Regions from separate parts of the Homo sapiens genome. Here region 2 is linked to region 1. The links come from fine-mapping of genetic effects on plasma protein levels. A gene starts in region 1. The other region holds a variant in brackets. All regions are shown on one strand. Distances are from middle to middle. Region 1 holds the start of SPARC (secreted protein acidic and cysteine rich). Region 2 has its middle 26 kb from the start of ATOX1-AS1.

Region 1 (16,530 bases):
GTTTAATAAAAAGAGCAGTAGGTCGAAGAGTTAGTTAGCTTGAGTCAAGCCCCAGCTCTGCTATTTATTGGCCGGGAGACCCAGGCCAGCTCACTTTACCTTTCTGAACCTCAGTTTCTTCTTCAAACGAGGGTGTTGGAGCAAATAAACATTCCCCCAAGGAGTTTGTTAGGAAACGAAGTTCTGTGGAATGCATTAAAAATTCATGAAAAAGAGGACTCTGTGATAGCTTTAACAGAGTTCAACAGGTTTCTTTTCAGCAGACATTTTCAGAGCTTTTAAGGTTTCAAGGTGCCTCAGGAATATCCACGAGGAAGGTAGTGAGTGCTGCATTTCACAAACGTGCTTGAACCCAGGGTCCCCCTATCTTTCTGGAATATGTTATAGGACTAATATTTTGTGAAACACACTTTGGAAAATGTTGAATTAGATAATCTACTTATAAGATAGCTGACATTTATGAAGTGCTTCATTCATGTAGCAGTGGGCCAAATGCGTTACATATATGATCTCATTTAATCCTCACAAGCACCTCACAAGAACTTTACACTTGAGGAAGCTGAGGCTGGAGGTTGATAACATGCCTCAAGTCTTCTAGAGTTAAATAACTTTGACCCAGGACCCAAGCCCAGAGTTCTGACTCAAAAACTAGGCCTCCTAAACATCCTCTTATATTTGCTGACTCCCTAAAATCTATGTTCACTTGAATCTTACACTGACTTTGTACCCAGGAGAGTGAAATATTTTAATCATGCTCATTTTACAGATAAGAACACTCAGGTTTGGAAAGGAAAAGTGAGCTGCTTAAGGTCAGAGTATAAGCAGGGCCTCAGGGCACAGGTCCTACTAAGGGAAGAACCCAAATCAGAACTCAAATGAGTGCTTCTTTCTCCTCGGGTGATGCTATGGTTGGAACATGTACCCCTAAAAGCATGTGTTGAAAACTTAATCCTCAATGCAGCAGTGTTGGGAGGTGGGGCCTATCGGGAGATGCTTAGGTCATGAGGGCTCTGCCCTTACGAGTTGATTAACATCAATTAGGGTTTGAGGTTGCAAGTTCTATCTCTTGCTCTCTTTCTCTCCCTCTCTTTGCCCTTCTACCATGGCATGATACAGCATGAAGACCTTTGCCAGATGCTAGTCCTCAATCTTGGACTTCCCAGCTCCAGAATCATGAGCCATTAAATTTCTGTTTATTATAAATCACCCAGTTCCAGGTATTCTGTTATAACAACACAAAAACAGACTAAGACCAGTGGGTTTGTGTCAACATGTCAACATGAAAAGGTGCAGCCAACGCATTATTAACATTTGTCACCTCAGTGGAGAGGGAGCCTCTGTGAGAAGGCGGTGCCTTGGTAAACTCTTACTGGGACCCTGGGTGGAGGCAGTGGGTGCAGTGGAAAGAGTCTTGACTGTTAAGAGTTTGGGAGCTTTCATTTCAGCCCCACCATGGGCCAACTGTGTGACTTTGGGCAAGTCTGTCTGTCTGCCCGCCCAAGCCCAAAATGGGCTTAGTGAATCCTGACCTTTCTACTTTGTAGACTAAATGTGCCACTCAATAAGATTAGGGTGATAAAAGTCCTTTGTGGGCCAGACACGGTAGCTCACGCCTGTAATCCCAGTACTTTGGGAGGCTGAGGTGGGCAGATCACTAGGTTAGGAGTTCAAGACTAGCCTGGCCAACTTGGTGAAACCCTGCCTCTACTAAAAAATACAAAAAATTAGCCAGGCCTGGTGGCACACGCCTGTAATCCTAGCTACTCAGGAGGCTGAGGCAGGAGAATTGCTTGAACCCAGGAGGTGGAGGATGCAGTGAGCCAAGATTGTGCGACTATGCTCCAGCCTGGGTGACAGAACGAGACTCCGTCTCAGAAAAAAAAAAAAAAAAAGTCCTTTGTGAGCTACAAAGAGCTAAAGGAGAAACCTTCAACTGCTCAGTGGGTGTGTTGCAAGTGGGGAGGGTGCTGAGGTTAAATTTCATCTTCCTCTGTTTGGCCTTGGCCTGGTTGGTGGATGCTCTGCTTCGGGGACCCAGGGCCAGATGACAATGGGTTCTTTGTGCCCTTCAGACAATGGGAAGGGCTGCCTGGGGAAAGATACAGTAACAAGGCAACAGGCTGAGTCAGCCTCCAATGTGCTTGAACCTTCTTAGCTTGGCAGCCTTGACATTCAGCCAGCCACACAAAGGGTATATTTGAGAGTTCTGATACATAATCCCCATCCCAAAGAGGTCAGCCTGCCCAGTCCCTCCCTCCGGAGATTTGGAACAGGCCAGAGCTGGCTTCAGCCTGGGAGAGAGAGGCCCCAGGCCTAGCTGTCCACACTGTAACCTTGGGCTCTTTAAACCTCAATTTTCCCAGCCACACATGGAAAATCTGGGATTGAATAGGGCTAAAGGGCCCTGTCAGTTCTAAGCTTTGAAAAAATAGAAGCGATCCAATCTGAGCTTGAAGGATGAATGGGTTTGGGTTTGGGGCCAGTGGGGGCAGGGAGGCAGCCATGGCCAGAAGGGCAGAATGGGCAGTTGAGTACCTGGGGAAGTCATGGAGAGAGGGCTCTGGAGTGGAGCTACCTGTGTGTGTTCCTGGCTTCTCCACTGTGGGACCTTGACCAAGTGATTTAGTTCTCAGAACTTTTCTTTACTCATCTTTAAAATGAGAATGGTAATTGTACCCATCTATGGTAGACAAAGTAATGGCCCCTCCAAAGATGGACGTGCCCTAATCCTCAGAACCTATAAACAGGCTATCTTACATGGCAGAGGGGGCTTTGCAGATTAATTTAAGGATTTAAAGGTGGGAAGATTATTTTAGGTTATTTAGGTGGGCCCAATGTAATGACAAGGGTTCTTAAAAGTTGAAGGCCAGAGGGTCAAAGTCAGGAAAAGATGTCAAGGCAGAAGCAGAGTTGGAGTGATGTGCTTAGAAGACAGAGTGAGGGTTCACAAGCCAAGGAATGAGGGTGGCCTCTAGAAACTGAAAAAGGTAAGAAAATAGGCAGGGCACAGTGGCTTATGCCTGTAATCCCAGCACTTTGGGAGGCCCAGGCAGGCAGATCACCTGAGGTCAGGAGTTTGAGACCAGCCTGACCAAAATGGAGAAACCCTGTCTCTACTAAAAATACAAAATTAGCCAGATGTGGTGGCACATGCCTGTAATCCCAGCTACTCTCGAGGCTGAGGCAGGAGAATTGCTTGAACCCGGGAGGTGGAGGTGGCGGTGCGGCAAGATTGCACCATTGCACTCTAGCATGGGCATCAAGAGTGAAACTCTGTCTCAAAAAACAAAACAACAACAACAAAAAGGTAAGGAAACAGATTCTTTCCTCAACAGATTCATCCTTCCTCCGGAAGGAACCCAACGACACCTTGATTTTAGGACTTCTGACCTCCAAAACTATAAGATAATAAATTTGTGTTGTTTTTAAGTCACCAAATTTGTGGTAATTTACTATAGTAATGATAGAAAAACAAATATTCTGCATAAGTGTTGTTGAGTTAAATGAGATAATGGACATAAAGTGTTTTGCCCACCATCTGCTTTGTAATATTGAATATGATTGTCTGCCTTCTCAGTTTAGTGACAATTGCTCCAATGAAACCTGGTCCCTCATGGGCCCTCAAGTTCTCCTATGTAAGTTTTGTTGAGTTTTTTTAACCCGAAAGGCTCACTCAGGAGTTATGACCTGGAGATCTGAACTGCTGAGATCCCGATGCTGTTTTTAATGCATGGCCTTAGGGGATGTTTCTTTGTCCGGCTTTTATTTGTTTAACTTTATGCTTGGTTGCTTTCCTCCTTGCCAGAAGCCAAATCCACAGAGCCTTCCTGCTCTATTTCCAGAGTTCAGACCTCTTGCTCCCTGTGCAAGTATTCCTGTCCCTGTGTAGGAATAGTTTACCTGGCCCCAGTCCAGCTCCCAGAGATGGTTCATCAGGTGGTCCATAGGCTGGTCTCAGAGCTAGTGACAGAGTCTCTGGAGTCAGTGAGCAGAAAGACAAGCAGGTTCTTGGTGTGGTTAAGAATCTGGTTTTTAGCCAGGAGTCAGGAGACCTGGTTTTGAGCCCCAGCTTCCCTGAGTGATAGAGGCCTCAGTTTCTCCATATCTACACTATAGGTTCTAATCCCTACCCTAACTCTTTCACAGGACTGCTGTGGCATTCACTGAGATAGTGGACAAGAAAGTATGTTGAAGTGGCTAAAAGGGTGTAAAAAGGGTAGGAATGAACAACAGGAAAATGGAGGAGAAAAGGACGAGGAAGAACGGGAGGAGATGGGAAATCTCCCCCAGTAGGTAATTCTAGCCACACTTTCAGTTACTTGAAAAAGCCAAGCTCTCCTCACATCAGGGTTTTGGTGCTTGTTCTCCCCTCTCCTTGAGTACTCTTCTCTCAGCCCTTCTCATTGACTCATGCTTCAACATCTTCCTCATCTTGCCTCCTCCAAGATGCCTATGCTAATGACCCTATCTGAAGTCATCCTCCATTGCTTTTTCATTTCATCTTCCTTGTTTCTTCCATAGAACTGATCACAACCTGAAATGAGCTCACGGCCTGCCTTCACCTATTGGAATGTAAAGTGCAAGAGGGCAGAGCCTTGTCTGTCCTATTTATTGCTATATCCCCAGTGCCTGATGCAAAGCACAATAAAGACTGAATGAACGAACGAGGTAGCTGATGTACTGGGGGTGTACGGAGCCTGGATGGCAGGCACATGTGGACATTTCCCAGGCAGTCCCTTGAGTTCTAAGGCTGTGGCTGGGGTGCTAGGTCAGGAGGGCAGGATCAGGGTAAAGTGAGAAGTGCCTAGAAGAGCATAGCTGGAGAGTGGTTGGAGAGGGCAGTGGGCAGGCAGCAGGGACCCCAATATACTGATGGATTGCTTTACAAGATGAAAAGCTGATTCAGCCTAATGTTGGATCAGCAACATTCTTGACTCGGGAGAGGGGTGTATGGTCTGAAGTCCACGTATGTCAGAGCTGGAGAGGAGTTGAGGGGGAAGTAGCGTGCAGTAGTCAAGCACTTGGGCTCTGGTGTCCCTTAAACCTGGATTTGAATCTCTGATTTACCATATACTTGGTGCATAAGCTTGAGCAAATTATTGATATGAACTTCATTTTCCACATTTATAAAATGGGAATAATAACAGTTCCAGATTTATAAGAGTTAAGTCAGACAATATATGCAAAGAGCTTAGCAGGTGCTTGGCACATAGTAGGTGTTTAATAAATGCTGGCTCTTATTACTACTATTCTGCTGTCCAACCTATTTTATAAATGAAAAGGTGTAGGGTCAGGTACAATGGCTCATGCTTGTAATACTAGCACATTGGGAGGCCAAGGCAGGAGGATTGCTTGAGGCCAGGAGTTCAAGACCAGCCTGGGCAACCTAGCAAGACCTTGCCTCTATTAACACAATTAAAAAGAAAGAAAGAAAAGGTGTAGTTCAGAGGGGCAGGGATGGGCCCAAAGTCACTCAGTGACTCAATAGCAGAGTGGGACTCACACCCAGGTCTATCACACCTGGCTGCGTTGTGCTTCTCTCCCTTCCTATAAAGCCCTTGGCAGGTGGCAGGAAGACCAGCCTTAGTCCTAGTGGTCTTCCTTTCTAGGTCAGAGTCATCCTTGCTTCAGAGGCTCCTGTTGCCCCAGGATGCTTTTTTTTTTTTTTTTTTTTTTTTTTGCCTTTTGAGGTGGAGTTTCACTCTTGTTGCCCAGGCTGGAGTGCAATGGTGCTATCTCAGCTCACTGCAACCTCCGCCTCCTGAGTTCAAGCAGTTCTGCCTCAGCTTCCCAAGTAGCTGGGATTACAGGCGTGAGCCACCAAGCCTGGCTAATTTTGTATTTTTAGTAGAGACGGGGTTTCACTATGTTGGTCAGCCTGGTCACCGAACTCCTGACCTCAGGTGATCCACCCACCTCTGCCTCCCAAAGTGTTGGGATTACAGGTGTGAGCCACTGCACCCAGCCATGTGCTCTTATCCTTAGATATAAAACCTACCAAGTTTTCTTTCTGGGAGTGATTCTGGCTCAGGGTGTCCCCACAGAGACCTGGAAGTGGCCCTCAGGAGGGATCTCTCTTCCAGAGCTTCAGCCCAGCCCCAACCAGACTTCCACTTCCTGAACTGAAAGCCACATGGGAACACCAGCCAAAAACTGGGAAGAGTTCCACTGGTTCATCCTCATCAGAATCATCATTTTAGTTTATGAATAAAAATACAAAGCTTCTGCTAATTTTAGTCCCATAATGCCTGGGAGCTATAGCAACCAATCCTATAAAAATATACATCTGTCCGGATGGCAAAACAGATATGTGGAGAGTCCACCAGCACCCTGTATTCAGCAGCCAAAAGCACTTGGCTTTTGAACCAGGGTGAGAGGCCTTGGGGGGTCTTTATTTATTTATTTAGAGACGGAGTCTTGCTCTGTCTCCAAGGCTAGAGTGCAATGGTGCCATCTCGGCTCACTGCAACCTCCGCCTCTTGGGTTCAAGCGATTCTCCTGCCTCAGCCTCCCATGTAGCTGGGATTACAGGCACGTGCCATGATGCCCAACTAATTTCTTTTGTATTTCTAGTAGAGACAGGGTTTTGCCATGTTGGCCAGCCTGGTGTCGAACTCCTGACCGCAGGTGATCTACCTGCCTCAGCCTCCCAAAGGGCTGGAATTACAGGAGTGAGCCACCATGCCTGGCCTTATTATTATTATTATTATTTTATTATTATTACAGACAGCATCTTGCTCTGTCACCGAGGCTAGTCTCAGGCTTCTGGCCTTAAGCAATCCTCCTGCTTCAGCCTCAGAGTAGCTGGGACTCCAGGAACATACTACTGCACCCGGCCCTTGGGGGTCATTTGGAGAAGACTCCTTCTTGGGTGTTTGTGGATTTTTCTGCAGAGAAAGTTCATTGCTTCCTTTAGGTTCTCAAAAGGACCAAACACCCTAACTTTTATATTCCACTTTAGTGGTTTGAGGGTCTCTTGGGTGTGGGGCAGTGTTCCAGGCTGGAACCCTAGTAAAAGACAACCCTCTCTTTTTTCAGATGGGCAAGTCGGAAGTTCATATATTTATTGAATAAAATATTGCAAGCCAGCTTTGTGTGGGGCACTGGTCAACATGCTGGGAACAAAGCAGTAAACAGACATGTGAAGTCCCTGCTCTCACCAAGCTTCTGTCTAGTTGGGGAAACAAATGGTTTCTGAGAATGACAGGTGATGGGGAGGAAATAAAACAGTGTAAGGCGATGAACTGTGCCTGTGAGAGAGGCAAGTAGATTGAGTGGCCCTAAGGAGGTGACATTAGAATAGGCACAGGAAAATCAGGTGGAAGAGTGTCTCTGGCAGAGGTAAGAGCAAATGCAAAGATACTGGGCATGGTGGCTCAGACTTGTAATCCCAACACTTAGAGAGGCCAAGGCGGGCGGATCACTTGTGGTCAGGAGTTCGAGACCAGTCTGGCCAACATGGTGAAACCCTGTCTCTACTAAAAATACAAAAATTAGCCTGGTGTGGTGGTGCATGCCTGTAATCCCAGCTTCTTGAGAGGCTGAGGCAGCAGAATCACTTGAACCCAGGAGGTGGAGGTTGCAGTGAGTTGAGATTGCGCCACAGCCCTCCAGCCTGGGCAACAAAGTGAGAGTCTGTCTCAAAAAAAAAAAAAAAATCCTGGGGTGGGAGAAGCTTTGGGGTAGTTGAAGGACTGGAAGGAAGTTGGCATGGCTGGAGCAGCGTGGGCACAGAGGACAGTGGTAGGAGGAGAGAATGGCAAGAGAGACAGGGGCCACAGCGGATGGAAGTGTATCATGAGGGTGTTCTCTGCCTTCTTCCTTTCCATGGTATTCAAACCCAACCCATGCTTCCAGGTCCACCTCTTTCAGGAATCCACCAATCTGAAGCCCTGGGATAAGCCTTAGAGTCTGTACCACTCATGTAAGTGGGTGTATGTGTAAGGCACAACCTTTCAGCAAGATCCAAAGCTCCTTGAATAGTGAGTTATCTCGATTGATTGTTCACAGTCACAGATTGAATTCCTTGTACTTTTTTTCCCTTCTCAGTTCTGCACTTAACTCGTCTAAAAAAATTAAAAAAGAATTTAAGAAACCACAAAGCTAAGCTGGGTGCGGTGGCTCACGCCTGTAATCCTAGCACTTTGGGAAGCCAAGGCATTCGGATTGCCCAAGCTCAGGAGTTCGAGACCAGCCTGGGCAACATGTTGAAACCCCATTTCTACTAAAAATACAATAAATTAGCTGGGTGTTGTGGCATGTGCGCCTGTAATCCCAGCTACTCTGGAGGCTGAGGCGCGATAATTGCTTGAACCCGGGAGGCAGAGGTTGCAGTGAGCCGAAATCATACCACTGCACTCCAGCCTGGGCGACAGAGTGAGTGAGACTCTGTCTCAAAACAAAACAAAACAAACAAACAAAAAAACCGGAAACCACAAAACTTTTTGAGGACAAGGACCAGGTATTTATTAATTCTCATACCTCCCAGAGTGTTAGGCACAAAATAAACATTCAACCAAGACCTGTTGCACTGAGCAGTTCATATATAACAGGAGTGACCCAAGTTGAAACGTAGAATCAGCCCTCTCATACCACTTTTTGCCAGGTGATCATAGGCAAGTTACTTAGCATCTATGTTTCCTTATTATTAAAATGGTCATAATTACAATGCCTAAGATAAGGGGTTGCTGTGAAGATTATTAAATCCTCAGTAAACTTTGGCTATTGTTACTCCTATGATTATCATCAATATCATCAATTACCTTATCTGTTCAATACTGGTGGCACAGGTCCACCAGCTAGATGTCTAATCCCTTATGTGTCTATTAGTGGTACAAGTGGAGTTTGAGTGGGATTTTTTTTTTTAAGACCAGTTCCAAATCATCAAGGATGATACCACTAGTAGCAGCTTGTCTTGTCTGTACAGTGGTAAGTCCTGGCCTTGCCTTTGTGGCAAATACAACCCCCTTGAATTGCTTGGCCCTTCTCAGCATTGCCTAATATTAGGGAGGACTCCTGTAAAGCTCACTGGTTAGAAGATCAAGACACTTGGGCCTGGTTCTGCCCCTGGGGGCCATTGGGTAATTCCTTGCAGTCTCCAGGCCTCACTTGCCCTCTGAACAAGAAAGAGGCTGTTCTGGGTCATCCCTCCAGGCCTGTCCAGCCCTGGCACTCTGTGAGTCGGTTTAGGCAGCAGCCCCGGAACAGATGAGGCAGGCAGGGTTGGGACGTTTGGTCAGGACAGCCCACCGCAAAAAGAGGAGGAAAGAAATGAAAGACAGAGACAGCTTTGGCTATGGGAGAAGGAGGAGGCCGGGGGAAGGAGGAGACAGGAGGAGGAGGGACCACGGGGTGGAGGGGAGATAGACCCAGCCCAGAGCTCTGAGTGGTTTCCTGTTGCCTGTCTCTAAACCCCTCCACATTCCCGCGGTCCTTCAGACTGCCCGGAGAGCGCGCTCTGCCTGCCGCCTGCCTGCCTGCCACTGAGGTATGTGTGACCCCCGCCCAGCCTTTCCCTTCTATAGTTGCACCAACCCCGACACCCCCGTTCACGCCGTCAGCTCGTGTGCAAGGGAGGGAAGCTCTGCTGAGGATGCGCCTCTCCTCCCGGCTCCATCACGGCTCCCCTTAAGAGCATGGCCCTCGGTCCTGTCTGCCTGTTGCTTTTCAGAAGGTGGACTCACTGTGTAACTTTGTCTTCCCTTACAGGTTTACAGAAAATAATCTCACTATGTCTTCGGGGGAGCATTTTCTCACTCTCTGTTTTTCTCTGTGTCTGTCTCTGGTTTCAGAGGCTGCCTGCCTGTCCTCTTTGCTCCCTTTGCAAATGTGGCAGCCTCCTCCTTTCCTGGGAATCTGATCCCATCACAGCTGCCACAGGGACCTGGCCAGCAACCGGAGTCTGTCCTCCAGATCTCGGTCAGGGGTTCTGTTTTCCAAAAGGGACTTTGCACGAACAATCAGTTGATCTCTGAAAGGCAAAGGGGGAGGCTTCACCATTAATCCACACCTCTGGGAAGCCTTCTGTTTTCCTCTAATTCTCCTCACTCCCAAACACCACCTTCCGTCCCCCCAATACACAAATTTCAGCACCATTCTGCCTGAAATGGCACCATCACAACCTCAGTCTTGGGTTAGGTGTTGTTCCTGTCCTGAGTTCCTTGGGATGGTAAACACAGGCAGTAGCCCTTAGTTTATCTAGATCTGAAAACCCAGACATCAGATATCGTCAACCAAGACATGGGTGTAATGGGAGGTGGAGTGTGCTGGGGGAGATATTCTCAGAAGGGGGAAAGGGGGAAGGGAAGAGGGAGAGAATTCCAGGGTCCCCTTCCGTAATCCACCCAAGACTAGTGTCCAGCCTGTCAGGGTGTCAGTTCTTCTTCAGACAAATCCACTACCTTTCTTCGCCGCCACTGGCTCCGTGAACTGGCTGTCAAGTGGACTTCCTTAGGGAAAGGGACTCCAAGGACTCCAAGGGAAGGGGGGCACTGGGATGAGTTATGTCTTCCAGGATTCCCAGTCTGCCCAAAAGGGAACAGAGAGGCATGCATTTTCCTCAGGAAAGGACAGCATTTTTTTCATTAGAGAAAATGTTTTCTCTAGTAATGCTTTAGAGTTAAATTTCTATACGCCCCAAGTGCTGGTGGTTTAGTGAGAAGCAAAGCAGAAGTAGGACACAGGCTTCGGGCATGCATTTTATGTGTGATCTTAGGTAAGTGTCTCCCCTGGATTTAGTGCCCCATCTGTAATGAAAGAAGGCTGAAACTGAAGGCTCTTTGGGGTGCTTTGTGTCCTCTAAAATATTCAAAGGAAGATTTCTTAACCAGGGTCTATGGAGTGGTCTTTGAATGGGCCTCAAGCCATCTCTAAGCCCCTAAAAATTGTATGCACTGTGTGTGTGTGTGTGTGTGTGTGTGTGTGTGTGTGAGAGAGAGAGGGAGAGAGAGAGAGAGAGAGGATGAATATGGGTGGTCACAGCTTTCAGCTTTAAGATATTCTCAAATGGATTAGAGGGCATGACGTGGGGATGGAGTGAGGACTGGTAACAAATGTGTGTATTTGCTGGAGGATGAAGCCTTCTGAAAAGGGAGTGGTTGAGGAAAGAGAGAGTTAACTCTCAGCTATCAGCTGCCACATCGACATAGCCTAGAGCAAAGAGGGGGAGGGAGGAGAAGAAGGGGGTTGCCTGGAGAAGGAATCAACTTTTGAAACTTTCTCCAAGTCCCACCCACCAGAAGGCTCTTCTCTGCCTGACTCACTCTCCGAGGAATGCGAGTTGCCACGGTAACCTTTTTTTCAGGGTCTCTGCCTGCTGGCTGGAGGGGACCCTTGAAACCCTCTAAGAACATCAGTCTGAACGTACCCCACCCCCAAATTCAAGGCCTGCAGCAAATTCTAGGCCCTGCCCTTGTGATCTCTCAGGATTCCGGGGAAGCCTTGGGCCATGATAATCTCCTTGCAAGGGTGTTTGAAGACCTGGGTTTTAGCTCTGGCTGTGCCCTGAAGGTACCATTTGACCTTGAACTAATACTTCTTTCTGGGCCCCATTCCCTCTACAGTTAAAGAACAGTAACAGCAGCCACCTCTAGGGGGTAGATAGTGTGTAGAAGAAATGGGATAATGCACAGGGAAGCACTTTGCGAATTGTGGCATTCCCTCATAATGCAAAGGGTTTTAGAACTGATGGATTAAAGGCATCCAAAGACCTAGTGAAATCATTCTCAGCTTTTTTTTTTTTTTTTTTTCCTGGCAGCTCCATCATCTTGGGGTTTGTATAGAACTTTCCTTTACTAGAAGTACTGACAGGAAAAATTTTAAAATCATAATATTGTTTATCTTCATTTTGATTTGGGGAACTTCTTGTGTATTTCCCAAGACTGTTGTGCCCTCTATGTAGGAAAAGCATTGGCCAAGGGTGAAAAAAAAAAAAAAAAGTGTGTTCTAACTCCCAGTGCCTGACATTGGGAAAGACACTTCCTCTCTTGAGGCTGCAGTTTCCCAAACTGTTAAATAGAGTTTCTAAGCTAGATGATTTCCCAGGCACCCTTCTAACTCTGAAGTCCTATAAACCTAAATCCCAGATACCGCTTTTATTCAAAGGAATAGCTTGCCTGCATTTTTAACACCGCCTTACTGCACCCCCAGTTGAAAAGAAAACAAGAAAAGATGGGCTAGGGGATCTTGAGTTGCATAACCATCATGCTGTAATCCTTATCCATCTGTAGAGATTTGTCAATCAACAGTGTGGCTGGGGTTTGCTATTCATGAGAGCAGCTTTCCTTGCTGAAAACAAGCTATAAATAAGAAAGAATGGTGAAGGAAAGGAAAGAGCTGAGGATGTGAGGTAAACAGTAGAATATTTGGCTTTTGAAGTTGTTTATGTAGGTAGATAAATATGCAGAGATAAACAGGGACAGGTACAAACCCATAGGGATGAAGAGTATAAACATCGATTTCATCAACAGGCACCCACTGGCTCAGCTAAAAATAAGTGCCTCATTACAGGAGCAGACACAGAAAGTCATTCACTCACACACCTCTTCCTGGATGACAATGATTTACAGACAAGTTCCAGGAATATATCTCAATGAATGTGAAAATTCTGACCCTCGCCTATTACAGGCTGAAACAGACAGATGCTAAGTCAGGCTGTATGTAACTTACACAGACATGCCATCAGGTATACAAACACACACCGCCACTTGCAGCCACACATGGATGGATGTGCACAGTCAAACATATGCACAGTCAAACATAATATGGATCATGACAATGAGACAGACGTGTAACCTACATTTATCACCAACCACCTCTATGTCTCAGAGAGAGAGAAACTGAGGCTCAGGAAGAGAAAATAACTCACTGGAGGTCACATAGCAAGCTGGCGTCTGAGCCAAACTTCCACGTGTTTGGAGCCATTTTGATATTCACCTTGCCTTCCCCCCCAATCCCCATTTGTTCAGTTTGGAAACACACTTATGCACACAAGCCCCATGGATACTAAGTGGTGAGCAGCACTTTGTCTCTCCCGTTGGCTGGCCTGCAATGCCTATTCCAGCCCACGTGGCTTTGTCATTAGGCCCAAAGGCCCTGCATGATGTGCCTGTAGGCGGCTGCTCCCTTGCTTCTAGCTGGCTCCCTCCCAAACGTCAGTTTCAAAGGAGAGAAGGGAAAACCAGCCTTGAGCTTTCAGCAACCCTGAGGACCTTGTTTCTACAGCACAGACCCTGATGCCTCCCTCCCTCCCTCCCTCCCTCCCAACCTCAATCCTGAACCCAGGGACAGCTGGGCTGTGCAGGGCCAGGGCCAGCAAGTAGTGACTTGACGGAATTATTTAGAGAAACAGCCTCTCCTCAACTGGCAGCTTAGACAGGAAATCATCTCTGCTCTCACCCATCAAGCTATAGAACTTTATGTCTGCAAGGAAAACATGAACATAGACAACAATTGTTGTCAGAGCTGGTTTCTTTCAGAAACTTGGTATTAACTTCTCTCATCTGGGGATCACTCTGGGTCATCTTGATGTTAGTCATGGCATTAGGATTTCAGACCTATCAGATAAAAAAAGCAAAGCAAACATCTGGATGTTTTTGAACATCTGGAAATTTGGCTTAGACACCAGCTTGCCGTGTGACCTCCAGTGAGGTATTTTCCTTCTCTAAGCCTCAATTTCTCTACCTCTACAATAAGAGGCAGCACACAGAGGTTTCATGTGGCCTGACAACATCACTAATTCATCGGTAGTGGCTGTCAGAAGAACTGTGTTCAGGATTCTGATGACTCTCTAAGCTTTAGGAGAAGAGGTCAAGCGATTGATTAGTAATGTCTGCCACATGTGCAGGAGGGGTAGGTGGAGGCCACGTGTTTGTCACATATGCCACATATTTGCTATCTTTGGGATCTCGGAGGCTTTTCCAGATGCAATAGCCTGGACACTTTGATGTTATTTCTCATCCTTTCATTTGTGGTCACCACAATGCAGCAGCGGTGCCCTAGAGGGAGCCAAGGATGAAGCCTGAAGCTCCACCCCAGCCTCTGCTAGCCACAGTGAAATGTGGCATCTCAGATGTCTTTATGGAATCTCGGGCTGATTCCAGCCCCAAACTCTGGAGCCACCTCTGAGTTGCCCCAGAAGCTCTCCAGTCCTAAGTTTTAGCTACCACACCTTAAAAGTTTCCTTTAGCGTCTTTCCTTCCAGCAGGAAATAGAAGTGGAAGCAGGGAGTCAAGGGGCAAGTGGAGAGAGGTAAGGCTCTAAAAAGCTTCTGCCCAAGTTGATCCGGAAAATCAGAGCTGAAAAGAACCTAAAGGACCACCTTGCCTAAGGGTTCCATATTGTGTTCCTAGGAGAAAGTACAGATGTTCCAAGGTATCTTAGGGAATGTCCCTGTGTGTAGGACTCCCACTCCTCAGCTCCACTCCACTTTTATCTGCTTTTCTTTTTTGTGGATTTTTTTGAGAGGGAGTTTCACTCTTGTTGCCCAGGCGAGAGTGCAATGGCACAATCTTGGCTCACTGCAACCTCTGCCTCCCAGGTTCAAGTGACTCTCCTGCCTCAGCCTCCCGAGTTGCTGGGATTTTAGGCGCCCGCCACCATGCCCGGCTAATTTTTTGTATTTTTAGTAGAGACGGGGTTTCATCATGTTGGCCAGGCTGGTCTCGAACTGCTGACCTCAGGTGATCTACCCTCCTTGGCCTCCCAAAGTGCTGGGATTACAGGCGTGAGCCATTGCGCCCAGCCTGCTCTTGTTTTTTAATTTCACACTTATTGATTAACTAGATAATACTCATTCACATGGTTCAGTACATGCTAAAAGATTTCAGCTGTTTGAAATATCGGACTCTGCAGAAGACTTCATTGAAATAAAGGATTTTCTGGCTTACATAATTTTGAGCACTGACCTTATACAGACAAGCTGGGGGTGTTAGTTCTGGAGAGCAGAGGAGACTCCCCTGAATTCGCACAGTGAGCTGGGAGACATGCTGACTTGCTCTCAGCTCTCCTGACTTCCACGTCATGAGGCCACCTCTGAGCTGCTGTGTCTGCTCCCAGGGGTGTGAGCAGGAGTGCCATTGTAGCTGCATGTGGCCACCTCTCTGGCCTGCCTGGCTCGGTCCCCATGTCAGCAGACCCCAGGCTCCTTCCGAGTCCCAACTCCCTGGAGGGCCTGGCTCTTGGCTTCCTTTATTAGCCTCTAGGCTTGTTTTCCTCTCTTTGGGCTTGTTTACCAGCAACATGTGTTTTTGGAGCCCTTGTTTCCAAGCCAAATAGTGAGAGTGAGATGCTTGGCTGGTATCAGCTGCCCAAGTAAGAGGCCAGCCCTGGGCCTGGTCTTCGTCACTGTATCCTCTGGAGGCTGGACTTACCCAGACCAACAGGGGCAATATGTCCTTTGTTCCACCCAAACACCCCTTTCTCCCTGGGCTTATAAAGCACTGGAATTTTGCACTGAATTCTTTCGGGGGATGGAGATTCTGGGAACCTCGGACTTTATAAGATGCTCTTCCCAACGACAACATTGCTTACCTCTTTATTTGGATTCTCTTGTGTAAATCACCCATGAGCCTTTAAAGATTGGTATGTTATTGTTTCCATTTTACACATTGGGGAACAAATTGAGGCCCCAAGAGGTAAAGTTGATTTCTAAAGGTCATACAATTACTAAGTGGTGAGCCAGGATTTGAACCTGTATATTCTGGCTCCAGAGCCTATGAGCTTACCTTTATGCTATACTGCCTCATAGTTTATTATCACTCTGTCTACCATGGTAGCCACTAGCCACATGTGGCTATTTAGATTTAAGTTGATTAAAATAGATGGGCATGGTGGCTCACGCCTATAATCCCACCTCTTTGGGAGGCTGAGGCGGGCGGATGGCTTGAGGTCAGGAGTTCGAGACCAGCCTGGGCAACATAATGAAGCCCCATCTCTACAAAAAAGAAAAGAAAAGAAAAATTCGCTGGGTGTAGTCACAAGTGCCTGTGATCTCAGCTACTCGGGAGGCTGAGATGGGAGAATCACTTGAGCCCAGGAGGCAGAGGTTGCAGTGAGCTGAGATTGCGCCAACCACACTCCAGTCTGGGTGACAGAGGGAGACCGTGTCTCAAAAAAAAAAAAAAAAAAAAAAAAAAAAGATGTTTTCCACTATTCTCTATTGCAGTATTTCAACAAGGTATGGGTTAAGTAAGATATTTTGGATTGGCCTCAGTCCTTTTGCATAAAATTTTTAAATAAAAAAATTGGTTAAAATGAAATACAATTTAAAACTCAGTTCTTCATTTGCACTGGCAACATTTCAAGCATTCAGTAACCACTTGTAACCAGTAGCTATCATAGTGGACCACGTAGATATAGAATGTGTTCATCATCTTGGGAAGTCCTGTTGGGTTGCATTACTCCATAAGTTCTTTCCACCCAAATAAGATTTAATGATGGCAACTCAGTTTCTTTGCTTCACATCCTAAGTCTATCATTCTGAGACCCACAGTCCATGATTCTATGATTCTGAGGTATCCCCCCTGTTCTAAC
Region 2 (16,530 bases), 39 kb before region 1:
CTTCCTCTGATGTTAATGTGTTATATGACTATGACATATTTGTCAAAACTAAGATCTAATTGGTACATTGGTACCAAAGCTCCTTGGCACATTGGTTTTTGTTTTGTTTGAGATGGAGTCTCACTCTGTTGCCCAGGCTGGAGTGCAGTAGAGTGATCTTGGCTCAACTGCAACCTCTGCCTCCCAGATTCAAGCAATTCTCCCGCCTCAGCCTGCCTGGCTAATTTTTTTTTTTCTTTTTTTAAGACGGAGTCTTGCTCTGTCACCAGGCTGGAGTACAGTGGCGCTATCTCGGCTCACTGCAACTTCCGCCTCCCTGGTTCAGGCTATTCTCCTGCCTTAGCCTCCCGAGTAGATGGAATTACAGGCACGCACCACCATGCTCAGCTAATTTTTGTATTTTTAGTAGAGACAGGGTTTCACCATGTTGGACAGGATGGTCTTGATCTCCTGACCTTGTGATCCACCCACCTCGGCCTCCCAAAGTGCTGGGATTACAACCGTGAGCCACCACTCCCGACCTAATTTTTGTATTTTTAGTAGAGATGAGGCTTTGCCATGTTGGCCAGGCTGGAATCGAACTTGTGACCTCAGGTGATCTGCCCATCTCGGCCTCCCAAAGTGCTGGGATGACAGGTGTGAGCAACTGCTTGGCCGGTACAGTGTCAACTGGACTCCAGATGTTATTTGGATTTTACCAGCTTTCTCATAAGTGTTCTCTTTCTGGCCACAGATCTAATCCAGGGTACCACATTGCCTTTAGTCATCAGGTCTCCTTCATCTCCTCTGACCTTTGAGAGTTTAGCAGTCATTTCTTGTTTTTCATGACTTTAATAGTTGTGAAGACTATTGGCCAAGTATTATATAGCCTGTCCCTCTAATTTGGTTTGTCTGGCATGTTTCTCACGATTAAACTGGAGTTGGGGGAGGAACATACACAGAGGTAAAGTCTCCATCTTATTTCATTGTCTCAGGGGGTGCATAGATACTGACATGATCTATTACTGATGATGTTAGGGTTCCTGGCAAACTCCTGGCCATGAGGTTCCTGGAAAACTCTCAAAGATCAGAGAAGATTAAGAAGACCTGATGACTAAACCCGATGTGGTACACTGGATTGGATCTGTGTCCAGAAACTTACCATTTTTTCCTTTTCATTCTCTATTCTCAGGAAGCAAGTCACTAAGTCCAGCCATATTCAAGGGTGCATATGGAAATAAACTCCACTCCCCGAAGGGAGAAATATGTTGTCTGGAATTCTAAGAAGATTTGTCCCTTCTTGCCCATTTAAGTGACTGGAAAGTATTTATTGGTTACAAAAATACTGATTTTAGTGGCTGGAAAGCATTCCACTGTGCAAATGCACCTTAATTTGTTTAGCTAATTTATACAGAGTGGTGCATGCATATAGTTCACCGGCACTACACATCAATTCCAACCTCTTTCCTGTGTGCTTTCCCACATATGAGGCTGGAAGGCCAAGCCCCACGTGAACCTAATTTCCTGGTAGTTAAGTTTCTCATTGAAATTAGGTTTCACTGGCCGGGCGCGGTGGTTCACGCCTGTAATCCTAGCACTTTGGGAGGCCGAGGCAGGTGGATTGCCTGAGTTCAGGAGTTCGAGACCAGCCCGGGCAACACAGTGAAATCCTGTCTTTACTAAAATACAAAAAATTAGCTGGGCATGGGGGCATAAGCCTGTAATCCCAGCTACTCGGGAGGCTGAGACAGGAGAATCGCTTGAACCCAGGAGACGGAGATTGCAGTGAGCTGAGATCGTGCCACTGCATTCCAGCCTGGGTGACAGAGCAGAACTCCATCTCAAAAAAAAAAAAAAAAAATTAAGTTTCATTGATTAGGTTCACTCCTGCTAGATTTGGAAGGTGGAAATCAGGAAAAGCCATTGTCCCACAGATTTTGGCTGTTCCAGCCCAGCATGGAGACATTGGTTATTTGGCAGCAGTGTTCCCGTGTCTAGTCACTAGTTTCGTACGTGTTGAGAGGTGCTGGTGGCTGTGATTTCCTGACCCCTTGGATCACAGCCATGGCAGTGCCTACTTGAACTTCATAGTCCAGCAGCCACCCTCTGCTTCCCTGCCCTCCTGATGGGGCAATGTGGCTGCCCCTCTGGTAGCCAGTTCACCTATACTGCTCTGAGAGTCATAATGCTGGAAGCTCAGCCTCAGCCCCTTCCTCCTGCCCTTCCAATCCTTTTGTAAGCACCTGATGAAGTCCCTTTCTGAGCTCAGGTCGTGCCTGTGCCCCACAACTGAACTCAGATGGATAGAATGATCTATTAATAGGTTGTTTCCAGAACTTATTAAAGTGTATATGGTCTGGTATCAGGTAACTCAGTATTTCCTAGGAATAAAATCCTACAAGTGGAACTGTTAGAGCCCTTTCACTGTGCATATGGCTAAAGTAAAGCAACAGAGAAGTGCAGGTACTTGTCTGAGTTCACATAGGGAAATGGGAGCAGCTTGGGGTGCTCCTTCCATTAATTCATGCTGCTTTGTCATGGTCATTAAACACCCCTGGCGTTTTTCAGGTGAAGAGGACCAACTCAGTTTATTCAAATAACTTGTGAGAGAGACTGCTAATTTTCTATTCAAAAGTCTTTCGGCCGGGCACAGTGGCTCATGCCTGTAATCCCAGCACTTTGGGAGGCCAAGGCTGGCGGATCATCTGAGACCACCCTGACCAACATGGAGAAACCCTGTCTCTACTAAAAATACAAAATTAGCTGGGTGTGGTGGCGCATGCCTATAATCCCCGCTACTTGGGAGGTGAGGCAGGAGAATCGCTTGAACCTGGGAGGTGGAGGTTGTGGTGAGCCGAGATCGCGCCATTGCACTCCAGCCTGGGCAACAAGAGCAAGACTCCATCTCAAGAAGAAAGAGAGAGAGAGAGAGGGAGGGAGGGAGGGAGAGAGAGAGAGAGAGAAAGAAAAGAAAGAAAGAAAGAAAGAAAGAAAGAAAGAAAGAAAGAAAGAAAGAAAGA[AAGAAAGAAAGAG/G]AAAGAAAGAAAGAAAAAGGAAGGAAGGAAGAAAAAGGAAGGAAGGAAGGAAGAGAGAAGGAAAGCCTTTCATCCCCTTTTCCTTAGTAATTTATGGCTGGGCACATGGCAACCTAAAATAAAGACGACATTCCCTAGTTTCCTGTTCCCCTAAGTGTGACATATAACTAAGTTCTGGCTAATGCGATGCAAATAAATTCCAGAAAGACTCCTTAAAATGAGCTGATGCAATTAGAAGGCCCTCACCATTCTTTATTCTTCCTCCTGCCTGAAATAAGGATGTAATCTAGTAGCCGTATCAGGCCATGATGTCACCTTCCTTAGCACTTGAAGCCGTGGCCTAAGGATAGTACCTGGGTCTCCAAAGATTATTCTTCTTATTATTATTAATTTATTATTTTTTAGAGATGGGGGTCTCACTCTGTTGCCCAGGCCAAAGTGCAGTGCTGAGGGCATAGCTCACTGCAACCTCAAACTCTTGGGCTCAAGTGATCCTCCTGCCTCAGCCTTTAGAGTAGCTGAGACTACAGGTATGCACCATGGCACTTAGCTAGAAGATGATGGATTCTATACATGAGCCTTAAACTATTTCCAGATTTTGTTTCTATGTGAGAATGAAATAATCTTCATTTTTGTTACAGCTACTGTTACTTTGAGCTTACTGGTATATACATACAGCTGAACCTAACACTAACTGATACATAAGCTTGTGCTTCCCTGATTTCTTCCACCCACCTGCCATATGCTTGCTTTCATTTGCCCATAATACCAAGATACGCAGGCCTAAAGTCAAGATTGGGATCTGCAGCAGTTGCTTTCACAAGGTCCTGGTTTTTTTGGTGTGTGTGTGTGTGTGTGTGTGTGTGTGTGTGTGTGTGTGTGTGTTTGTGTGTGTGATCTTGAGCCACTTTAACCGCCTGGGTCTCAGTTTCCACAACTTTAAAAGGAAGGGGTTAGGCTGGACATGATGGCTGATGCCTGTAATCCCAACACTTTAGGAGGCCAAGGCAGAAGGATTGCTTGAGGCCAGGAGTTCAAGACCAGCCTGGGCAACATAGTGAGACCCCAACTCTAAAAAAATTTTAAAAATTAGCCAGGTGGTGGCACCTGCCTGTAGTCCTAGCTACTCAGGAGGCTGAGGTGAGAGGATTGCTTGAACCCAGGAGACTGGGGCTGCAGGAAGCTATGATCACACCACGGCACTCAGCCTGGGTGACAGACTGAGACCTTGTCTCAATAATAATAATAATAATAATAAAACAAATGAAGGGGTTGGTCTAGATCAAAGATTGGCACACGACAGCCTGCAGGCCAAATCAAGCCACCATCTGTTTTTGTAAATAAAGTTTTATTGAAACACAGTCATATTCATTTTTGTATTATCTATGGCTGCTTCCACACTATAACAGCTGAGTTGGAGAATGGCAACGAAGACCATTTGGCCCACATAGCCTAGACTGTTTACTATTTTGCCCTTTTCAGAAGAAAATTGTCTGTCCATTGTTGCGGGAAGTCACAGACCCTGAATGGAGAGACCGGCTGAAGCCGCGGCAGAAGAACATAAATTGTGAAGATTTAATGGACATTTATCAGTTCCCAAAATTAATACTTTTATAATTTCTTACGCCTGTTTTTACTGCAGTCTCGGAACATAAAGTGTGAAGATTTCATGGACATTTATCACTTCCCCAATCAATACCCTTGTGATTTCCTATGCTTGTCTTTACTTTAATCTCTTAATCCTGTCATCTTCATAAGCTGAGGATGCATGTCACTTCAGGACCCTGTGATGACTGCGTTAACTGTACAAATTGTTTGTAAAGCATATGTGTTTGAACAATATGAAATCAGTGCACCCTGAAAAAGAACAGAATAACAGCAATTTTCAGGGAACAAGGGAGATAACCATAAGGTCTGACTGCCTGCGGGGTTGGGCAGAATAGAGCCATATTTTTCTTCTCACAGAAAGCCTATAGATGGATGTGCAAGTAGGAGAAATATCGCTGAATTCTTTTCCCAACAAGGAATATTAATAATTGATAGCCCTGGGGAAGGAATGCATTCCTGGGGGAGGTCTATGAATGGCCGCTCTGGGAATGTCTGTCTTATGCGGTAGAGATAAGGACTGAAATATGCCCTGGTCTCCTGCAGTGCCCTCAGGCTTGCTAGGACTGGGAAATTCCAGCCTGGTGAATTCTAGTCAGACCAGTTGTCTGCTCTCGAACTCTGTTTCCTGTTAAGATGTTTATCAAGACAATGCATGCACAGCGGGACACAGACTCTCATCAGTAATTCTAATTTTGCCCTTGCCTTGTGATCTTTTATTGCCCTTTGAAGCATGTGATCCTTGTGACCTACTCCCTGTTCGTACATCCCCTCCCCTTTTAAAATCCCTAATAAAAACTTGCTGGTTTTGTGGCTTGGGGTTGCCATCACAGTCCTACCAATATGCGATGACACCCCCGGAGGCCCAGCTGTAAAATTTCTCTCTTTGTACTCTTTCTCTTTATTTCTCAGACTGGCCGACACTTAGGGAAAATATAAAGAACCGAAATTGAAATATTGGGGGCTGGTTCCCCCAATAATCCATGGTCTAGATCAGTGATTTCAAACTGTTCTACAGAGACCTAAGGCTCTGTGCAGGTACCTCAGGGAAAAGGGAGGAACTGAGAGTGGGGCTCCAACCCCTGGCATCTTCCTACCAAGACTACACCTCTTATTTGTTGAAATTAACTAGTTGAGGCCAGTCACGGTGGCTCATGCCTGTAATCCCAGCACTTTGGGAGGCCGCGGCGGTGGATCACCTGAGGTCAAGAATTCAAGACCAGCCTGGCCAACATGGTGAAACCCTGTCTCTACTAAAAATACAAAAATTAGCCGGGCATGGTGGCATGTGCCTATAATCCCAGCTACTCCAGAGGCTGAGACAGGAGAATAGCTTGAACCCGGGAAGCAGAGGATGCAGTGAGCCAAGATCACATCACTGCACTCCAGCCTGGGCAACAAAGAGTGAAACTCCATCTCAAAAAAAAAAAAAAAAAGAAATTAACTAGCTGGATTTTATTTAAATATTTTATTATGGAAGTTTCCAAAAATATCTGAAAGTAAAGTGAATAATATCATGAACCCCATACACTCATCTCCCAGCTTCAAGAATTACCAAGTCATAGCCGGTTTCGGTGCATCTTCCACTGCCCGCCCCCACCCCACACAGGGTTATTCTGAAACAAACACCAGCATCATTTAATTTTATTATTGTATTTCTTTTTTCTTTTCTTTTCTTTCTTTCTTTTTTTTTTTTTTTTTGAGATGGAGTCTTGCTCTGTTGCTCAGGCTGGAGTGCAGTGGCGCAACCTTGGCTGACTGCAACCTCTGCCTTCTGAGTTCAAGCAATTCTCTTGCCTCAACCTCCTGAGTAGCAGGGGCTACTGGCACACACCACCACACCCGGCTAATTTTTGTATTATTGTATTTCTTCTGAGAGATAGGATTTAAAAAAAAAACCTATCCATCATGACACCTAAAAGTTAATACAAATTTCTTAATATCATAAAATATCCAGTGCTCAAATTTCCTCTATTGTTATTTATTTATTCTTTTCTTAAGCCCTTGGTTTGTTCAAATCAGGATGCAAACAAAGTCCATACATTGCATTTGATTGATGTTTCTTAAGTCTTTCAGTCTGTAGCAACCCTACTCCTGCCCTTTTTTGTTTTTCTCCGCAAATTATCTGTTGAGGAAGTTGGGTCTTCTGTGCAGGAGGGTCTTCTGTAATTCTGGATTTTACTGAGTGCACCCCATAATGCAATGTGTTCCTTAGTCCCCTCAAGTTCCTGTAAAATGGTGGTTAGGTTTATACTTCATCAGAACCACCTTTGATTTTTTGCTGACAATCTTTCATAGACGGTGCTATGAAATCCTCTTATATCATATCAGGCAGCACATAATATCTGCTTGTCTTTCTGTGTGTAATATCAAGATGGATGGATGGATTCAGATGTTGTCAGCCTAGTCCATCCATTATAAACTCCCCATCAGCTCTTCAACTCATGGTTTTAGCAGACATTGATGATTATTGTTGCACCCATTATTTTTTTAATCACAAAAGTCATACATGTAGGCTGAGAATGGTGGCTCACGCCTGTAATCCCAGCACTTTGAGAGGCTGAGATGGGTGGATCACTTGAGGCCAGGAGTTCGAGACCAGCCTGGTCAACATGGTGAAACTCCATCTCTACTAAAACTACAAAAATTAGCTGGGTGTGGTGGCACACGCCTGTAATCCCAGCTACTCGAGAGGCTGAGGCATAAGAATCTCTTGAACCTGCGAGGCAGAGGCTGCAGTGAGCCAAGACTGTGCCATTGCACTCCAGCCTGGGTGACACAGCAAGCGTCTGTCTCAAAAAAAAAAAAAAAAGTCATACATGTAAAATTGTAAAAAAAAAAAACCCAAATATCCATCCAAAGGAGACTGAAAAGATAAAAGCAGTAATTATATCACACTGTATTTATACATCAGGCAATATAGCAGTCAGAATTTAAAATCTAAATATATCATTTGGGGAGGCATACATATGTGTTAAAAGTAAAAAATATGTATAGGAATGATAAACTCCAAATGTAAGGTATTGTTTACTTCTTTTTGTATGGGAGAATGAGGAATAGGACTGGGTTTCAATTATATATATGATTCAATCATATATATATATATATATATATATATATATATATATATATATATACACACACACACACACACACACATTTTGTTTATTAACAGAGGTCTGTCTGAACTATTTATTGCAAAATGTTAAGATTTGTCAAAGCCAGAAGGTGTTAACTTTATCTCTGTAGTTTCTTTGTAAGTTTAAAATATAATTTTTTAAAAAAGGACTTGACATATAAACATGGAAAATATTGCCAACTCAAAAGGATGCATAATAAAAAATATATTCTGTTCATTTCAGACCCATGGTTCTCCTCCTCGGAGACACTGATTATTACCCATTTCATATGCATCTTTCAGGAATTGTCTATGTAAATGAAAGACTTAATATCCAAAAGAGCTGCTCCTTTCAGAAAAACCACTTTAAAACATTTTTCATTTTTCGGGACTTGCTCTATTGCCTAGGTGCAGTGATACAATCATAGCTCACTGCAGCCTCAAACTCCTGGGCTCGAGCAATCCTCCCACCTCACCCTCCTGCATATTTGGGACTACAGGTACATACCATGCCCAGCTAATTCAGAAAAACCATGAGCCATCTTTACACACATGGACATCTGACTGCACCCACCCATGTGGGAGGCAGCCTATAGACTGAGGCCTTCCATCTGGAGAGTCCACTTTGTGAGCTTTTATTTTGGAGACTCCCTGGAAACCAGTCTTTGTTTTCCCTGTCAACGGACCTGAAGCTATCTGGTTAGTCTTTTCTTTTTTTTCTTTTTTCTTTTCTTTTCTTTTCTTGTTTGAGATGGAGTCTTGCTGTCACTCAGGCTGGAGTGCAGTGGTGCGATCTCGGCTCACTGCAACCTCTACCTCCTGGGTTCAAGTCTCCCAAATAGCTGGGATTACGGGTGCCTGCCACCATGCTTGGCTAATTTTTTTTTTTTTTTTTAGTAGAGACGGGGTTTCACCATGTTAGCCAGACTGGTCTTGAACTCCTGACCTCAGGTGATCTGCCCGCCTCGGCCTCCCAAAGTACTAGAATTACAGGCATGAGCCACCATGTCCGGCCTGGTTAGTCTTTTCTGATTGGTGATCTCATAGGCCTTGTCTGTTAAACTAGCGTCAGCTTTGGGGAGTGGCTGCTTATCTCTTCAAGTTTCCTCTCCAGGAGGAAGGGTTACTAGGATCAATTTTCATATGCCAAACAATCTGTATTTAAGTCAGACCACCCCAAGTATATCCTCCAAGTTTGGTGAAAATCAGCCCAGCTATTTTCTTATGATGGAGTAGACAAGTCACAAACTTCATTTTATTATGTGGACAAATCCCCCCCTGCTCTGACCTTTGGGGGTGGGGGAAAGAGAGAGTAAAGAACTTAAAAAAATGAGAGCACACTCAGTTCACTGTTCTGTACTTGCCTTTTCCCCCACTTTTTACTGCACCTTGAGATAGTTTCATGTTTCGTATCAGTTCATATGGTTTTGCCCTCGTATTTAAAGTACAAATACTGGCCGGGTGTGGTAGCTCATGCCTGTAATCCCAGCACTTTGGGAGGCCGAGGTGGGCAGATCATGAGGTCAGGAGTTCGAGACCAGCCTGACCAACATGGTGAAACCCCATCTCTACTAAAGATATAAAAATTAGCTGGGCCTGGTGGCACATGCCTGTAATCCCAGCTACTCGGGAGGCTGAGGCAGGAGAATCGCTTGAACCTGGGAGGCGGAGGTTGCAGTAAGCCGAGATCCCACCATTGCACTCCAGCCTGGGCAACAGAGTGTGACTCTGTTTCAAAAAAATTAAATAAAAATAAATAAGTAAAGTACAAATACTGGTTGTTTTATTTGTGAATATATTGGCTTATTAACATGGGCTAAAATTAGTAATAATAATCTACCTATTCTTTCTAAAATAACATGTTGACTTCTGTTAAGTATAGGGTGACCAACTCATTCCTTTGCCTGGAATTTTCCGTTTTAGCACTTAAAGTCCTATATCCCAGGAAACCCTTCAGTTCTAAGCAAACTGGGATATTTGGTCACCATATTTAAGTTCCAAATAAACATTGGACAAGTTTGAATAGGAGGTGGCACATTTTAACAAAACAAGTAGTAATCTTGGTCTTTGCCCTAAAATGGAACTGTTAACCAAATACTGTCCATATAAAGTAAAGATTTTCTCAGAACTTGTGCTATTATTGTTGGGAGGTGCCTCACGCTTTTAGACAGCAGAATAGTATTCCATTGTATGACTTCACCATCATCTTATTAAATCTGTTCCTTACTGATGGACTTTTCGTGTCTTTCCAGTGTTGTGCTACAATAAACAAGTCTGCCATAAATGTCTTTATTCATCTGTTCTGTAAACTGGCAAATTCTGTGTAACAATTTGTTTTGAAAATAAGGTCTTCCTGCTAAAAACAAAACTCAAAAAGCCACAGGATTAAAGAGTCTTTCATCTTGGGCCTTCTGTGAGTCTCCTTTTCTTCAGGTGACTGACTGGGCTTCGCATGGGTGTAAAATGGGTTGGCAGCTAAGGCCTTGGGAAGAAAGCCCAGGCAAAGAGGAGAGGCTTCCTGGGGTGCATGAGGGAGAAAAACAGCCCACTGCTGTGGTTCCCAGCATGAGGGGGTTGTTTATCAAGGCGCTGGAAGAGGAGTTGGCTAGACTTTGAGAGGTCCAGTGTTGGCCAGGAGCAGGACTGAAAGACTGGAACCATTCAGCTGTCTTCTAAAAGGAGGAGAGAAAGGAAGGAAAAACAAGTCAAGACACACACTGGGTGGCTGCCGGCTGGCCAGGGCTCTTGGTACAATAAGTCTGGTGCCAGGCTGTAGGGCCCAGCCAGCTATCCCTGGGGAACCCATCCCAGACTGGTTTAGATCATTTCTGCAGTGGCTTCTTGGGGCTATTAGAAATGGATTTTTACAGAGTCAGAGATAATGCAGTACTTTTCCAGAGGGATGGCTACCTGGGCCAGAAAGGTGATTTTCCAGCCATGTTGTCTATCCTATGTGTATTAATACATCCTTTATCCATCAAAGAGGCGGCTAGTATCATTTGCCAAACTGTTTCGTGCAGAATGCTATTAGTGAAACATGAGGTCTCAAAGCCAAAAAAGTTTGAAAAATGCCAGGCCCATCAAAATCAAGCAAAATAATTTACTGTAGAAATTTGCAGATCCTTCAAGGTACTAATACTGTAATTGAGACTTTTCAAAAAGGAGATAAAGTATGAACTTGTTTCCCAAGTTTTTAGTCCTTGGAACACCTTTTTCTCCCCCACAGAACACACAGTCACATCTTTGCTAATGTTGTCTGCTAATTCTAACCTATAGGAAAAGGGAGAAGCCAATAGGCCTGACCCAAAAACTTCCAAGAATCTGAGACAAAGAAGGCTATGGAATCTGGCCAGTGAGCTATCTTGGACACTGCCATGTCCTACACAAAAGCATGACGGGCATCTGTCATAATATAAAATAATTGATTTTTGGCCAGGCGTGGTGGCTCACACCTGTAATCCCAGCACTTTGGGAGGCCGAGGGGGATGGATCACTTGAGGACAGGAGTTTGAGACCAGCCTAGCCAATATGGCCAAACCCCATCTCTACTAAAAATACAAAAAAATTAGCCAGGCATGGTGGCTGGCACCTATAGTCCCAGCTACTTAGAGGCTGAGGTGGGGGAATCGCTTGAACCTGGGAGGTGGAGGCTGCAGTGAGCTGAGATTGTGTCACTGCACTCCAGTCTGGGCAGTAGAGTGAGACTCTGTCTTAAAAATAAATAAATAATTGACTTTCATGAGCATGAAGGATTCTCCAGAAATTGAGTTAGGTGCAGCCGCATGCTGGTCAGAACAGTCTAGCAAAGATGGCAAAGAGAGCTGGGGCTCGCCTGCATCTCTGCATTTCACACCTCTGATCTCGAGACTCAGCATCACCCTTGGCCACAGTGATCTCCAAGGGCCTCTGTGTGTCAGGCTCAGGGCACACAGTAGCTATGGGGGAGATGCCCTGGTGCAGGGTTCTGAGGAGGCCTACAAAGATCACTTCATCCAATCGGCATCCCCACTGTGTCACTCTGTGTCTGACTCCATCTTTGCTGATGTGTTTGTGTTAAAATGCAAAGCCATCTGGGAAGAACCATTGTCAGAATCCTTGGTAGCATCCTTCCCCTGAGATTTGGGTGGAAAGAGGCAGGTTTTGTGTTTGTTGAAGATAAAATGTCCTGTACTAGAGACTGTATTTGCAAGTCTTTCCCATCCTTGAGCCATTGCACAAGGCTGGTACCTTGTATCTAGGATTGCTTCCCCTGAAATGGATTGGAAAATAAAATGTTAAAATGTTAAAAAGTCAGAGAGAACATGAGTTCTAGTCCACTCTACCTCTAATTTGCTGGTTGACATTAGAAAATCCTTTTGCATATATACATACATCAAAACATCATGTTGTACACCATAAATACATACAATTTTTATTTGTCAGTTTTAAAATAAGGAAGTTCTTTCCCCTCTCTGACTTCATGTTCTTCCTCTGTAAAATGAAGGGGTCAGACTATTTCAGTTATTGGCCAACTTTTTTATTAGAAGAAGCCTTCTGTCAAGCAAAGTCTTAAGGAGCATCTCAAATAAAACAGATAAAAGTAGTCTCTGACCAAAATGTTTTTAAGGAAATGTTATGTCATTACTGTATAACAGGATATGTTTACTATACAAATTGGGACAGAGGTTGCTTTTAGAAGCAAGGAGGTAGTTGTGATTGGGACAGGGCACACAGAGAGCTTCTGGGGTGGCTGCAAAATGTTATTTTTTGACCTGAGTGGTTTCCTTGACCTGAGTGGTTTTCCTTAGGGTTATTCAGTAAGCTATTTTTATATTTATATTATGAATGCATTATAAAGTCAATTACTGAGAACACAAATGTGTCCATTAGATTTAGCTGCAAAAGGCAGAAAACCCCAAATAGAAGTGGCCTCAATAAGACAGAATTGTATGTCTCTTTTATGTAAATGAAATCTGGAGGTGAGCAGTCCAGGGCACTCACTGTAGGGAAGTGAGTCAGCAAGGTAACTCAGTGATCATCAGGACCAAGCCTCCTTCTCTCTATCAATTCAAAGTCCAAGATGACTGATTGAGTTCTGCCATCATGTCCACATTAGAGCTAGCTAGAAGAGGAATGAGAAGAGCATTCCCATTCACTTGAAGAAAACTCCCATAAGTCACACTCACAACCTTTGCTTACAACCCACTGACTAAAGCTTAACTGCACTGCCTTACCTATCTGCAAGGAAGGCTGGGAGATGTAGTTTAATCAGGGCACTATGGCCCCACTCAAGTGTAGTTTCTACAACAAAGGGAAAGGGGACCACTAGCAAAATCTGCCACAATGTATAAATGAATTTTGGTCTCTGATGTGTTCACATTTGACAGATGACTGATTTAGGTGTCTTTGTTGTTTTGCAGCCACAGTTTTAAATGCAGTCTCTGGTATACAAAATAAGGTGAATATTAATAGTTTGTGGAACTGCAGAAGTACAGAATGTGACTTAAAACCCCTGAACTAGAAACTCCCTGAGAGCTTTTCCAGCTTTGACATTCCAGAATTCTGTGGAAGTCCTGCCCACATATATGAGCTTACAGAGGTTTTCCTCTCTGGAGATTGGCAAGGGTGTTCTTGTTACCTTCAGGACTGAGAACTGTGCTCATTGTTTAAGTTAGCACAGCCCTAGCCAAGTATCATGAAAAGCGCTCTGTCATTCAGCAGTCTTCCCCCTTGGGCTGGGAGTTCCCCAGAGGTGGTATAGTTTACTGAGGCATTGAAAACTCAGGCATCCAAGCAGTAACAGCTTCTTAGTGGGGAGTGGCTCAGACTTTCCCTCCACAGTTTCAGAGATTGTTGTAGTAGAAGAGTCTACCCTTGATTCAACCCTTTTCATTTTTCAGAGGAGGAAGCATGGATCCAGAGAGGCTGAGAGATTTACTTGACGTGACCAGCAACTTATAGCAGGACTGGGCCTAGTACCAACTTGTTCTGATACTTTCTTTTTTGTCATTTTACAGATGAAACTGCAACCTAGAAAGGTAGCTTGCCCAGAGCCACATTGTTACTCAGAATAGATCAGAATTTGAATGCATACAATGCACGGCAGAGACTACACTTTAGCCTCTATGCTAAGAACTACTGCCTCCCACTGTGTGAGGACAGACTTTACTATGGGAGCAGGAACACTTCATCACACCACTTAGATGTCACATCCCTTCAGATCACCCTTTGCTCCAATTCTGTACTCCTTCATCAACCTCTTGATGTCTAATTCAACACCTTGGCATAGGGAATAATATGGCTTTAGGTGTAGAAACAAACTTTCTGCTAGTGCAAAAGCTCATCCTCCAGATGAGGGGGATGGGACATGTTGGTATTTTCCAGGAGCATCTGTCTTTCTCTGTGCAGCAATCCCCCAACACTGCAAACTGATCAGACGGAGCTTCAAAACCTGCAAAGGTTATGACCCTAGGTAGTGGGGACCACAACCTGTGGAGTCCTAATTAGGGAAAAGGAGTCAGGCTGGTGGGAGCAGGGGAAAGAAAAAAGAAAAAGTAGATAAGCTATACATCTGCCTTTCTTCATGGTCCAGGACACATAGCCCTCCTGTGCAAATAACTCACAATCTTCCTGTGCCCAACTATCACCAGACACCTCGGCTGATAGAATAATGTACATTAGCTCACTGCAACCTTGGCATTATCTGTACTGTACAAAGCCCTCTTCAGCACACAGCACAAGCACCATCCTAAAAAATCCCCAGCAAGCCTTTGACTCCTTGCAGTCAGCTACTCTCTTGCTGACTTACCCATTGCACCCTTGCAACATACTTTCATACTTCCTCTAACAAATCTGCTTTGCTGACCTACAACTGTCTTGGTAAATTCTTTCTACCACCTGCGTAGCACTGGCCCAAATAGTCACTACCTGAGACACAACTTCCCTGAAAAGCAGTGCCATCTCTGGGAGCTGCCCAAGCAACCTTCAAGTCTCTCTTTGCTGCAGCTTTCTAGGTTGTGCACAGTGGCACTACAGCAGCAAGGCCTTCCTGCCTGCTATCACTTACTTTTCCCTAGGCAAAGGGGCTGGGGGAAACATCCATTGGGTCTCCTGGACAACAGGAAAGTCTCAGGATAAGAGGCACTTTGGAGAATCACTGGAGCAACTCTAGCAGTTCAGCTAGTTGGCTCTTCAGGATTCTCCTTGTCCTCCAGCACAGAAGGCTTTTAATCCAGACAGAGGTGGAGGGAGGGTGGGATGAGCTAACGGGCCTGAGAGGAGACTTTGTATCTTAGAAGACATTCCAGAAGGACCTAGAGACAGAGGGTGTTGTTTTTGTCCTTATTCCGACAACTCTTCTGAGAGGATAGTTGGGGCTGGAGGATGCTGTGCAGCCTGTTTAGAGGGCAGGGAAGTTGAAACAGTGTGAGGGAACCAGTAGAGCTGACCTCCTGCCTCTGTAAAGAACATGACCCTGGGAAATCCCAAAGCTTCACATGGCCCAGTCTGTGAAGAGCCACATTGAAGAAAACAAAGTGTTACAGTTACAAATCATTTAAAAGTGCTACAATCTTCATTTTTATATCTCTAAGAGTATTAAAAGGGATCTAATTAATAATTCATAGAAAACTCCATTTCAGGCTGGGTGTAGTGGTTCACGCCTATAATCCCAGCACTTTGGGAGGCCAAGGCAGGAGGATTGCTTGAGCCCAGGAGTTAGAGACCAGCCTGGGCAACAGGCTCTATTAAAAAAATTTAAAAATTAACTGGCATGGTGGTGCACACCTATAGTCCCAGCCACTAGGGGGTGCTGAGGTAGAAGAATCACTTGACCCTGGGAGGTTGAGGCTGCAGTGAGCCATGTTCGTGCCACTGCACTTCAGCCTGGGCAACAGAACGAGACCCCTGTCTCAAAAACAAAACAAAAAACTCCATTTTGACCAGACACTGGTTCATGCCCGTAATCTCAGCACTTTGGGAGGCCAAGACAGGAGGATGGCTTGTGACCAGGAGTTCAAAACCAGCCCTGGCAAGATAGTGAGACCCTGTCTCTACAAAAAATTTAAAAACTAGCTGAGCGTGGTGACATGTGCCTGTAGGCCCACCTACTTGGGAGGCTGAGGCGGGACGATCACTTAAGCCCAGGAGTTCAAAGTTATAGTGAGCTATGGTTGTGCCACTGCATTCCAGCCTGGGTGATAGAGCAAGACTCTGTCTCAAAAAAACAAAAAAACTGAGATCTTACTGATTCCAGAATTTTCTCATGCTCACATTGATGCTTAGTCTTTCCCCCACTCACCTCCCTGGCCCTCTCCAGGAAAGAGAAAAAGTCTTGAAGAGGCCCAGCCCCTTGAAGAATGTAGTTCTTCACATGCCTCAAAAGAGTAAGGGCCAACTACAGTTTGCTAAAAGTTGGAGGAGCTTCCCCTACATAGTTTGGCCACAGAGTCATCCAAATTATTTTTGTGACCCAGACAGCAGCCCCAGACACTGCATCAGCTCGGTTCTGAAGCCAGAAGAAACTTTCTGCTCTCCGTAAGGCTCCTCTTCACCCCATTACATTCCTTTTCTCTCTCCACCTCCTGCTTTAATGTTCCCCTGCAGCCACACGTAAGGAATATCATCTTCTTTCTCTTAAAGGGACAATTATCGTTCACCTTGTCTCATAGATGTGAGACATTTACCTGTTGAGTAAACAGGATGTCTCCTCCGAGTCAGAAATGGATTTCTTCTGTTGAAAGGGATAGAAAACCCAACCCAAACCAGTATAAGCAAAAAGGCTTATGGAAAGAAAAAGTCCAGGAGCAGGGCTGTATA

The links. PIP is the posterior inclusion probability: the model's chance that the variant is causal. Protein levels are from the aptamer-based SomaScan assay of Sun 2018.
Region 2: its variant is fine-mapped to the plasma level of the SPARC protein (Sun 2018, PIP 0.95).

What each region holds. Positions count from the first base shown.
Region 1 is chr5:151,679,822-151,696,351 of GRCh38, reverse strand. It overlaps SPARC (secreted protein acidic and cysteine rich), which reads left to right and starts at 9,437. Exons shown (of 10, transcript NM_003118.4): 1 at 9,437-9,487. It overlaps CLMAT3 (colorectal liver metastasis associated transcript 3), which reads right to left. Exons shown (of 5, transcript NR_109873.1): 4 at 10,401-10,523; 5 at 8,442-9,970. RefSeq lists enhancers at 8,669-9,496, 9,497-10,326, 11,155-11,984.
Region 2 is chr5:151,718,441-151,734,970 of GRCh38, reverse strand. No RefSeq gene overlaps it. Among named protein-coding and RNA genes, the nearest start is that of ATOX1-AS1, 26 kb to the left of the region's middle. RefSeq lists enhancers at 4,994-5,530, 13,216-13,265, 13,286-13,355, 13,616-13,875, 13,946-14,125 and silencers at 12,677-12,877, 13,337-13,537, 14,368-14,477, 15,409-15,703. The variant AAGAAAGAAAGAG/G (reference allele first, on the strand shown) is at 3,000.